2 separate regions of the Homo sapiens genome follow, and region 2 is linked to region 1. The links come from fine-mapping of genetic effects on gene expression. A gene starts in region 1. The other region holds a variant in brackets. All regions are shown on one strand. Distances are between the middles of the regions.

Region 1 (5,371 bases):
TCAGGTGTAACAACCTGGCTTTAGAAAGCAACCTTGACTTCATCAGAACTTTTTGTGGGAAAATTTGGAGTAAAATGTCACAATTCAGGATTTAAACAAGAAAGACACAGCTCCCACGTATGCTGAAAACTCATCAGCTTAAGACTATTCACATGTCCTGTCAGGATTACATGTGTTGCTACCCTTTTTAAAATTTCAGTATTTTAGTTCTAGAAAGCAGGAATAAAACCCAAAAATGTGTGTAGGGGTGTGTGTGTGGGGGTAATTCACATGGGAGGGACTTGAGTTGGGAAAAGGGTAGGATGGGGCCAGCAGGCTGTCTTGAAGCTGCCTTCCCAAAGCTAGCAGTTTTTTATTTAGATGGTGTCACTAATGTAAAACAATCGTTACATTTTCTAAAGATACCTTTATTCATATCTTACAGAGGACTGGGAAAACATCAACCAACCATATCAATGAATATGATCATTTGTATTAGGTTTGGTTTTGGTGACTTTGAAGGAGGGTGTCTTTCTCCCCAAATAAAACAAAAACAAAAACAAAAACAAAAACAAAAACAAAAACGTAATGTGCTCTTGGAAAGGTCACTGGGGACCACCACCAAAGGAAGGGGAGGGGACAGCGAGAATGAAGGAGATCAAAAGCCAAAATTAAAGGTTTTTAAAATTTTAACCAAAGGGCTTTATTAGCACACAAGTCAGAGTCAAGGAGATTACAAAGAGGGCACTCCTTTTTGCATCCTTGAACTGTGCTTTGAATCATTTTGAAATCTCGGCTTGAATCTGAGCTGATCACTTGGGGGCAGACACTAAGGTAGCTGGCCTGTTTTTTAGCTTAATTACCCCCTTGAACCCTTTCTCTCCTGGGCCTTTGCCCTTCCTTTCTGATCACTTATTTTGGGAGCCCTGGAAGGAACTTGCCAATAATCTGAAACTCCCTTTAGGAGTGAGAGTCCCACACCACTTATTCATTGCCCCTGTCAATGCTCAGATGGGCCCGCTCCACTGGCACCCTTGCTATTAATAGGACAGTGCTAGGTAAGGGAGAGTGAGAGGCAGGGCAGCCTGTTGCCACAAGGCTTGCTAACCAGATGCCTTTAATATCCCTCATTGTTCTCCATGCTTCCATGTGTTTAGGGAGAAGTGTCTGGCTTGCCTACCCAGCAGAACTCATGTTCAGAATTTTGAACGTATTAAAAAGTCAAGCTCAATTTAAAAACAGCTAGCTCAACGCTTTTCAGATTTGTGAGATAAAAAACAAACCTTAAAAGACCTTGTTCCAAAATATTCTTTTCTTTCATTTTTTATTTGGAAACAAAACCAAATTTAAAGTTGCAAGAAATGTACAATGAACCCTGATATGCCCTTAACCTAGACTATTTTGAACATTTTGCCATATTTTGTTTTTTTCTCCCTTCATACATACACATCTTTATTATCATCATTCTTCTTCTTGTTGTTACTGAAACATTTATGTGTACTTTGCAGACATCATGGCCCTTTACCCCCAAAGCCTCAGCCTGGATCTTTTATGAACAAGGATATGTCCTTGCCGAAAATTTTGGTTTTTTTTTGTTTTTTTTTTTTTGTTTTGTAGAATAAGACAAGGGTCTGTTGAAGCCTTTAAAACCAAAGCGTGGGCCAGTCCAAAGTGCTGACTGTTGGAGCCTCCTCCCTCTCCCGCCTTTAGAGGGAGGAGAGGAGACACCACCGCAGGTCTGGAGGACTTTATTGTTGCCATAAAACATATTTTTTCCATGTTCTCTTTAGAAACACGAAAAGAGGCTGCATTCCCAAGATCTGGCTTGTGGCTTTAAAATAAAAAATATTTTTACAGTATACTTTTTGGAGGCATGAAAGCACGTGTTTTATTAACATTTCCCAAACTCTTTTTACTGACGGCATACAGCCTGCAGCCTGCTGCAATCGAAAATGCATGCCTTTTTAGAAATTATACCTTTCAGTTAACTGAAGGGGAAAACTTTCCCTTCTTCTGTAAATCATCATCTCTCTGATGGAGAACTTTAAAAATCCTGTGTATGATCAGCACAGTAGGGTGACGAGGAGGTAATGCCGTTTATCTCACCCAACGTGCAATGAGTTTCGTAAGCAGTTTTCTGGGGATTTTGCTCATTGGTGGTTTGGGTCTCATTCACGATATTCTATAGAGCCCGTGCCCAAAACAGGGGGCCACGTGATGCCTGGGAAGGGGTATAAACAGCACTCTGGCTGCTCTGGCCACATGGAGATGCGCCTACGCCCTTTGCCCTCCCCAGTTGTCTCCTTGCGTTCATAGAGCCCGGGGATCTCCAAGGAGCAGCCCAGTTTTCCCTGTAAGAACCCAAAGGTCTTGTACAGAGCTGGAATTCGGCGAAAAACTTGCTCCAACACGCCAAATCTGCCGCATCCTCAATACCCCACCCTCTTCCCTCTGCGCTTACTGCCCACACCCCTACTCCCAACTTGAGGACTCCCCGCCCCCACCACGCTGACAGTCTCAATTCCAACCCCTTGGATGTGAGGAAGTGTCTTTGCGCCTGAACGCGCCCAGCACGGCGAGGCCACCAGTGACTCCCAGCGGCCGCACAGGGCGCTGCGCCCCCCTCGCCCCGGCCTCCCCCGCCCTGCGTCCGCCCCGTCACCCCCGCGCGGCCTCCTGCGCCCGGGCTGGAGGCAGATTCCTCTCTCCGGGTTTTCAGAGCGCCTTTCCGAAACCTCCTCCCCGCCCAGCCAGGGAGAGAGATCCCGGGCGCAATCGCTCCCCGGAGCGGCCGAGGGGCGCGCGGGGAGAGGCCTGCGCCGGGGTACTTTCAAACTGAGGCGCGCGCACACACTCACACCCACCCACCCACTCACCCACACACACACAGACACACGCACGCCCATTTATATAGGCGGCGGCGACGGCAGTGGCCGGGGTGGCGACGGCGAGCACAGAAACGATGGAGTTGAGCCAGTCGACCCTGGTTGGAAGCAAGTGAGAAGAGACCAGGCGCACCCCTAAATTTCTGTGCGGAGCGCTTGTCATCCTCCCCAGGGAACGGTGCACCCAAAGGAGGACTGGCTGGACTGATTTGCTAGGGAGAGGGCGGGGAAGAGGAGGCAAGGTGAGCAGAGAAGCCCCCTGCGTATCCGGACTGCCAGATCGCGCTTTTGCCGGACTCCTGCCCCCTCCCTGCTCAGGTGGGCGCGCCCGGTCTCCAGCTCACAGGGGCGCTTGGAGGAGACCAGAAAGTCGCCGCCTGGCTGCGCGGGATGCCTTTCGCCAAGCGGATCGTGGAGCCGCAATGGCTGTGCAGGCAGCGGCGCCCTGCGCCCGGCCCAGCAGTGGACGCGAGCGGAGGCAGCGCTGAGCCGCCGCCGCCCTTGCAGCCGCCGGGCCGGAGGGACCTGGACGAGGTCGAGGCGCCAGGGCCAGAGGAGCCAGCCCGCGCCGTCCCTGCACCTTCAGGGCTGCCACCGCCGCCGCCGCCACTGCCCGCGCCGGCCGACCAGACTCAGCCGCCGCACGGAGAGGCGTCCGTGGCTGGCGAGGAGAGCACGGCGGGGATCCCGGAGGCGGCGCCCGCAGCCGGCGAGGCGTCCTCGGCGGCGGCGGCGGCGGCCGTGCTGCTCATGCTGGACCTATGCGCGGTCAGCAACGCCGCTCTGGCCCGTGTCCTCCGGCAGCTCTCGGACGTGGCCCGGCACGCTTGCAGCCTCTTCCAGGAGCTCGAGAGCGACATCCAGCTCACCCACCGCCGCGTCTGGGCGCTGCAGGGCAAGCTCGGCGGCGTGCAGCGCGTCCTCAGCACGCTTGACCCTAAGCAGGAGGCAGTGCGTGAGTACCCGCGCCGTCCGCCCGCCAGGCTATGGGTTTCTGCGCCGCACCCTCGCGCCCTCCCCAGCAGCGGCAATCCCAGCCCCGCGGCGCCGCTCCGGTTGCAGCTTGCACCTTACTACTCTCGCCTTCCCACCCTTCCCATCCCCTGGGACCCACCCCAATCCTCCTGGGGCTGAGTGGCTGGGCTGGACCCCGATTCAGTGATGCAGACGTGGACGGTGGAAAGTTAAAAGGGCGACCTCTGAAGTCGCAGGCAGCGTGGGCTGAGAAGGAGCAGAAAGGGAGCGTTTATGGGGAGCACAGGAGGCAGAGAGGGTCTGTCCTTCACCACCGGGGCTCGCCTTTCACGTCCTTCACGGGGCGTAGGGAGGAGGGTTGCAACTCCTGTGGTTTCCAGAAGCCCAGCCCTGAGCCCTGTAGCCCACACCATGCATGTTCAGGGTTGGGGGTTCCAGGAGTAGTGAGTGTTCTTTTGAGACTGCTGCAGCACCGCGGCTGTTTCGTCACTCGCTGTGACCTCAGGTGCTGCCCCGAGCTCCGAACTTGTGCCTTGCCCTCGTGTGCGACGTAGCGTGGCGCTGCTCGCCTCCTAGACTGAACTTCGTAGTGCTTCTGCCGAAAACCCTTGTGGCCCGGAGGGGCCGCGGGGAGGGTCAGGGAGAGATGAGGGTGGGAGTGTCAGGGGCCCCGGGGAGATGGAGGAGACCCCTGGGCATCTTTTCTGCTCTGAACAGCCCAGGGTTCCTACTAAATGGCTCTGTGCCATCTGCCCGCAGAGGATCCCACAGACTATCTTCCTCCTCCCCGGTGCACTGTCGCCCAAATTTACTGGCACGTGGACTTAGGTATGAACTAGTCTGCTAGGCGGGCTGCAGGGAAACGACGAGGAAGGAAGTCTGGGAGACCCCTGGGCGTCTTTGCTGTCCGTTGACTTCGCTTTTACGACACCCAAGGGCTCCCAATAAATAGTCATTCTATGTCATCTCCCTTCCAAGGGCGGTCCCCTTGGCTCCGGATCGTCCAAATCTGGCGACGGCAGAATCATTTAGGAACGACCCAGGAGGTAGACAGGGGCGCTGGGTTGGCGCGACGGTCCTTTGGCGCCTAGTCAGGCTGCGACGCTCGCGGCGAAGGTGATGTCAGCGGCTCTGACTTACGTAAGAAGCTTCCTAGGTTGCTGCCGCAGCTGCGCCGGTGCGCAGTGGCCTAGGAGCGCGCGGGGCGGAGGCGCTTTGGAGGCATCCTTCCCTGGGGATTTCCGGGCACCTCTGCCCCACAGCCCAGCTCAGCCTCCCAGCGGTCCCTGCCCGCCCGCGTGTTCTCTCCCTCTTCCCCTCCTCCTCCGAAAAACCCTTTGAACCCCGTCCCGGGAATTCACTGCTTTTCTGCAATAACAATAGTAATAAGCGTAATGAATAAATGATGTGCTCGATCGGTTTTCGCAGCTATAAAAGACCCGGAGTTGGGTTAATGACTGGTTGTTTAAAAGGGCAATTCCGGGGATGAGTTCTGGAAAGAATTAGGACTGCCGTAGGCCAAGTCGTATTTT
Region 2 (5,371 bases), 150 kb after region 1:
CTTGATCTCTGCTGCTGCCAAAAATGGCAGGGCTGACACAGCAGGATTGCTTATCTCTACTGAGCAGAGCAGATGAGGAAACCGAGGCATAGAGCCGCCATGAGACTCATCCCAAGGCTCCTGACAGTCCAGAGGCAGAGCCAGTAGTGGGGGCAGTCTCCCCAGATGAGCTGACCTCAATGGATCTCTACACAGAAGAGGGAAAACAGATAGGGCGGCATCCAGTAAATACCCCAAAAGCTCATCTTGGAACCTGTGAGTCCCTGCTTGTGTTTCTTGGCTTCCCAGGTCCCTCACACCTCAATAAAAGCCCAGTCTTGTCTTTCTCTCCCAACAGTGCCGGCAAAAGAAATAAGACCTCCAACCACCACAGTGGAAAACCTGCAGGAAGAAAATGTTCATAAAGAGTTGAACCATGGCCCGAAGTGGTTTTGGTTTTCTTTCAAGGCCTGCAGCATCCTGGAGTGCCAGGGGCCTGTGGTCACAAAAGCTTCATCTCAAAAGAAGCTAAGAGGGGGTCCATTCTGGGGAATACTCTGGACAGTGCTATGAAGGGCAGCTGGGAAGAGAGCTGGCTCTCTGCTGCATATTGACTACTCGGGGGTACAATTTTGTCTTGCCCTTACCCTTATCCACCCATAGCAAGCTCCGCATTTGGTGATGTTTGCTTGTTTCACTTTTTATTTTGAAATAATTAAAACTTACAGGACAGGTGCAAGAATAGTGTAAATAACTCTTGTATACCTTTATCTAGATTCACTAATTGTTCATATTTTGTTGCATTTATCCCTTCTCTCCCCCACACTAATTCATGTTCATATATATGTGAATTTTTTTGCTGAACCATTTAGGAGTAGGCAGCTGTCATCAAACTCCCTTTACCCCTTGCATTTCCCAAGAATGAGAATATTCTCTTGTATATGTACAGCTATCAAATTTAGAAAATATAATATTTATTTCATACTTTTATGTAACCTGTGTCCCAATAATGCCCTTTATCACAATTTTCTTAAGGTTCACAATCTAGTCCTGGATCCCACATTGCATTTAGTTGTCCTGTCTCTTTTGTCCCCGTTAATCAAGAACAGTTCATAACTCTTCCTTTGTCTTCAGTGGCCTTGACATTTTTGAAGAATACCAGCCAGTTGTTTTATAGAATGTTCCTTAATTTTGGTTTCTCTGATGTTTCTTCACATTTACATTTGGATTTAGGCATTTTTCAGTTGGAATGCTATATAGGCATGTAAGTGATTTGTTCTCTGGGGACCATATCAGGAGGCACAGATGTCCATTTGGCCCTTGTTGGTGAGGTCACATTTGATTAGTTAAGCTGGTGTCTGTGTAGCTGTTCTTTTTCCTTTTGTAATGAACAAATATAATTTGTTGGAAGATATTTTGACATTATGTAAATATCCCATTCCTCATCAAACTCTCTCCACCTAGCTTTAGCATTCATTGAGGATTCTTGCCTGGATAATGATTTACTCTAATGGTTTCATCCATCATCCCTTCTATATTTGTTAGTCCAAAATAGTCTTTGATTGGGTGGGAAGGCATACTAAGCCTGCCGATCTTAGTAGCTGAGCTCACAGGGAGGAAGGGCCTTGATTTCCTCCTTGGACTCTGACTGACAGCTCTTTTGAAGCAGTCCTGTTCTGTTGGGTGTATGTTTTGACACATGTAGTAACTCATTTTGGAAATACTTATTTTTTACTAGATAACTTTCAAATAAGTTTTTAAATACTTTACAAAAAAATGGTAGGATGTTGGTTGCATATGTTATCATTTATTTTTGTGGCATCTGCTGGAAAATTGCACCTGGTTCTTTTACACAGTGTTGATCAACAGAAACCTGATCATGATGATAGCAATAATAATATCTTCTCACCATCTGAACCCTGCTCCAGAGAAAGGGATGAAATTAGAGAGATTGTTTGAATTCTGAGAAGGATGGTTGGACTAAAAAGGAAAACCAGCTATTGGAAGCAGATGAATTAAGTAAAACATGAATTTCCAGGAATGTTTCAAAATACTTGTGTGGGAGTTCTTTTTGGAATGTTAAAGCAGTGAATGGCATTGCTTGGAATTTTGTTTTTTTCTTTATTGATTTTGGTTCAAAACGAATCCTTAATCAGTTTCTAGCCAGTTCATTTTTGTCTATTTTTTGCAGCAATTTACTGTTTTGTTTTTGTTTTCTTTTTTCTTTCTTTTCTTTTTTTTTTTTTTTTTTTTTACTACAGTGGAAGGGGTTTTTATGGGAGAAACCTCTGATTATTGTTTTAGTGGGCCTAGAATATTAAGTTCTTGGTTTTGATTTTTGTCTTTTTAAATAGCTCTTTATAGCCCATAGTAAGAACAAAGGACTAATGGGGGATGTTTGGGAGGTTTCTCAGCTCTTATATGTTGTTATAACACTGGTTGTTACAGTTGCCATTAAGGTTAATGTTTTCAGAACAGCACCAAAAGCTATAAGCGGACATGAAGGAAAAGCAGCTGTTTTTCATAAAACTTACAGATGAACCAATGCTAGTTACTCCTGTGATGAGTGATCTAGAGCAGCCTTTCCCTAGTGTGTGTGTTCCTTGGAATGTGCATGTGTGTATACACACAGAAGAGAGAAAAGGGAGAGTTAAGTTCATGGTCAAAGAAGTTTCAAAAACATTGCATATTGTAACTCCATATTGGAGAATCACAAGGTTAAAAGAGTATAGTTAATGCTTTGAATGTTACACCTTTGCTAGAAAACAAACTACCCCAAAATTTAGTGGCGCTGAACAACAAACATATATCTTAGTCTGTGGTTGAGCTCAGTGGTTGTTCCAGTCTGGGCTAGGCCAGGCCAGGTGGTTGTAGCTGGGCTAGCGCATGTGTCCACAATCAGTGA[T/C]AGGTCAGCTGAGGCCTAGCTGATCTAGATTGGCCTCATCTGGGATGTTCCCCCTGGCAGTGTCCTCTTATCGTCTAGCAGGCCAGCCTGGGCTTGTTCATATGGTGATCACGGAATTCTGAGCATGCGAGCAGAAGTGCGCAAGGCCTTTCGAGATCCAGGCTTGGAACTCAGACAGTGCCACTTCTGAATTGCATTGGCCAAAGCAAGTCACAGAACCAAACCCAGATTCAAGGGTTTGAGAAATAGACTCCACCTCTCGATGGGAGGGCTTACAAGGTCTCATTGCAAATGGATGGGGAGATACCGAAAGGGGAATGATTGCAGCCATTTTGACAATCTAGCAGAGAGATCAACTAATACGTGACTGGCTATTATTTCTATGCGCATTTCTGGGTTTGGGAGAATTTGTAGGGGAGGAGGAAAAGAGATACAGATCATTTATAATTGCAGAAAGTAAAAATAAGACTTCAGTTGAGATTTAATGAGCTAATCTATTTCAAGTGCTTTGAACTCGCATGTAGTAAGAGCTCTATAAATGTTGCTGTTATTATTATCATGAATGCATATGTCACTTGAGGTCCTCAACCTCACTTAGAAGTGAAGCAGGAAGATTCATTTGACAACAAAATGAACAAAACTTCAGATACTTGTGCAAAACATATAATCAAGTGAAGGAATTTAAATAAAATACCCCCAGCAAAAATAGTCTGGAGCACAGAACAGACATTTTCCTCTGGGGGTTGAAGGTGGGAAGATGTGTCCAGTTTTGCCTTCTGTGACCAGTTCACCCTGTTGGGCTTGTTTCCAAGGTAAGGTCAGAGCTTGCCGGGTTCTTGCTAAACTGGAGTCTGTAATAAAGAGGGTACCCAGGTGTGAAGAGTTTTATGTTCTCAGGACTTGTTCTTTGTTTATTTAGTTAGCCTTTATTAAGTGCATTGGAGCCTTGGAGGGCTCTGCAGTGGCTTTTGTTGCATGATAAAGGTGGCACATAGCTTTTCTTTGGCTGACTTGGGCTCCCAAGTGAAAAAGGCAGAGAGGGCCCTGCCAGCTTCCCTGGCTCTGCCCCTTCAGGGCATTTCAGGGAGCAGTCCAGTGACTGACGCCAAATGCCCTTGAGCACTGTGCCAGCCCTCTTGACTGGAAGCTGGGGAAGGAAACTTTCTCAGGCCCTCTCTCTCTTTGCTTCTATTTCCCCTTTCATTTTGTGGTCTGAGCAGCCCCCGCCCCTCCTTGCGTAAACCCCTCTGCAGTTAGCATCAACAAATCCCAAGTTGTTTGTATGTGTGTCTAAAAGAAAAATTCTCTGAGGATTAGAAGCAGACACAATAGAGGGAGTGCTCCCTTTTGCTTTAATCACTTCAGGCTCCTACGTGTTGACAGGAAGTTTTGTTAGTATCCAAGTTTAAGGAAAGGAGCATTCAGGGGTGGCATTTTTTTTCCTGCGTTGAATTCTTAAAGTAAGTTTGATAAGATATCTGGTAAACTACAAGCCGCTCCCTTTTTAAATAGGCTTCACTGCCCCCTTGGCCTGCCTGTAAAAGCGCTGCTCCCTTCAAAGGGACCCATAATCACGCCGAGTCTGTGGGTTGCACGACTATACCCACTGTCTTATCTGCAAGTTGAGTTTGATCTTCCTGGCTGAAACCTGTGAGATGTTCCTTTATGTCTCCACATTCTTTTCTTCCCTTTCTGCTCCCAACCCCACCCCCAAATTAATTGGTGTCTGGTGACTTTTTCTACCGCTTCCTCTTGTTTTCTGTGGCTTTTGTCTAGGGCAGTGGGGGAGGGTGATTCTTCCCTCACCCCCAGGGGACATGTGGCAATGTCTGGAGACATTTTTGGTTGCCACAACTGGAGAAAAGGGGCATCTGGTGAGGAGAAGTGAAGGATGCTGCTAAACCTCCTACAATGCACAGTGCAGCCCCCACAGCAGAGAATGATCCAGCCTCAAATGTCACCAGTGCCACCACAAGGAGCCCCTGATCTAGCAGGTTGCTTTCTGGTAGGGTGCTCCTGCTTCTGATATGGCTCCTCCCTCTCTCTCTTCTTCCTCAAGAGGACTGTTCTTGTGTCTAGTATTGGTTACATCACCCCTGCCCTTAAATAACTAAACTCACAGAAGGAGAAAATTTTTCCTTAAGGATGCTACTGACTCTGGAATCCTTGAGTTACATGTGAATAACTGGGTCGTGCATGTCAGCATTAAGAAATAATCACAGAACTCCTGATTCTGGTTTGCTCTGGGTGGCAGCTGTGCTGGGTTTACCAATGGAGGAACTTCATGGCTGCTCATCTTTGACTCTTTTTCTGAGGAACCAAATCTCTCTGGGAGTGCTGGCTAACTCACCCCTTCTTCAAACACGCTGTGTGGCTTCAGGATATGGCTGCTGGCTTTAAAAAAGAAGGAAAAATAAATTAAGACACCCACACTGCAAGACAACCCCTGTGAGTATATGTTATACTGGGAATGCCCCATTTCTCAAA

Evidence for each region. PIP is the estimated chance that this variant, and not a neighbour inherited with it, causes the effect. A credible set is the group of variants that fine-mapping cannot tell apart.
Region 2: its variant is the best candidate, but not a certain one, in a credible set for the expression of NHS in whole blood (TOPMed, PIP 0.55).

What each region holds. Positions count from the first base shown.
Region 1 is chrX:17,372,504-17,377,874 of GRCh38, forward strand. NHS (NHS actin remodeling regulator) reads left to right here and starts at 2,697. Exons shown (of 9, transcript NM_001291867.2): 1 at 2,697-3,819. The coding sequence starts at 3,255.
Region 2 is chrX:17,523,427-17,528,797 of GRCh38, forward strand. The region is part of intron 1 of NHS (NHS actin remodeling regulator); the gene reads left to right. LOC101928389 (a long non-coding RNA gene) reads left to right here and starts at 5,009. Exons shown (of 2, transcript NR_135631.1): 1 at 5,009-5,332. The variant T/C (reference allele first, on the strand shown) is at 2,885.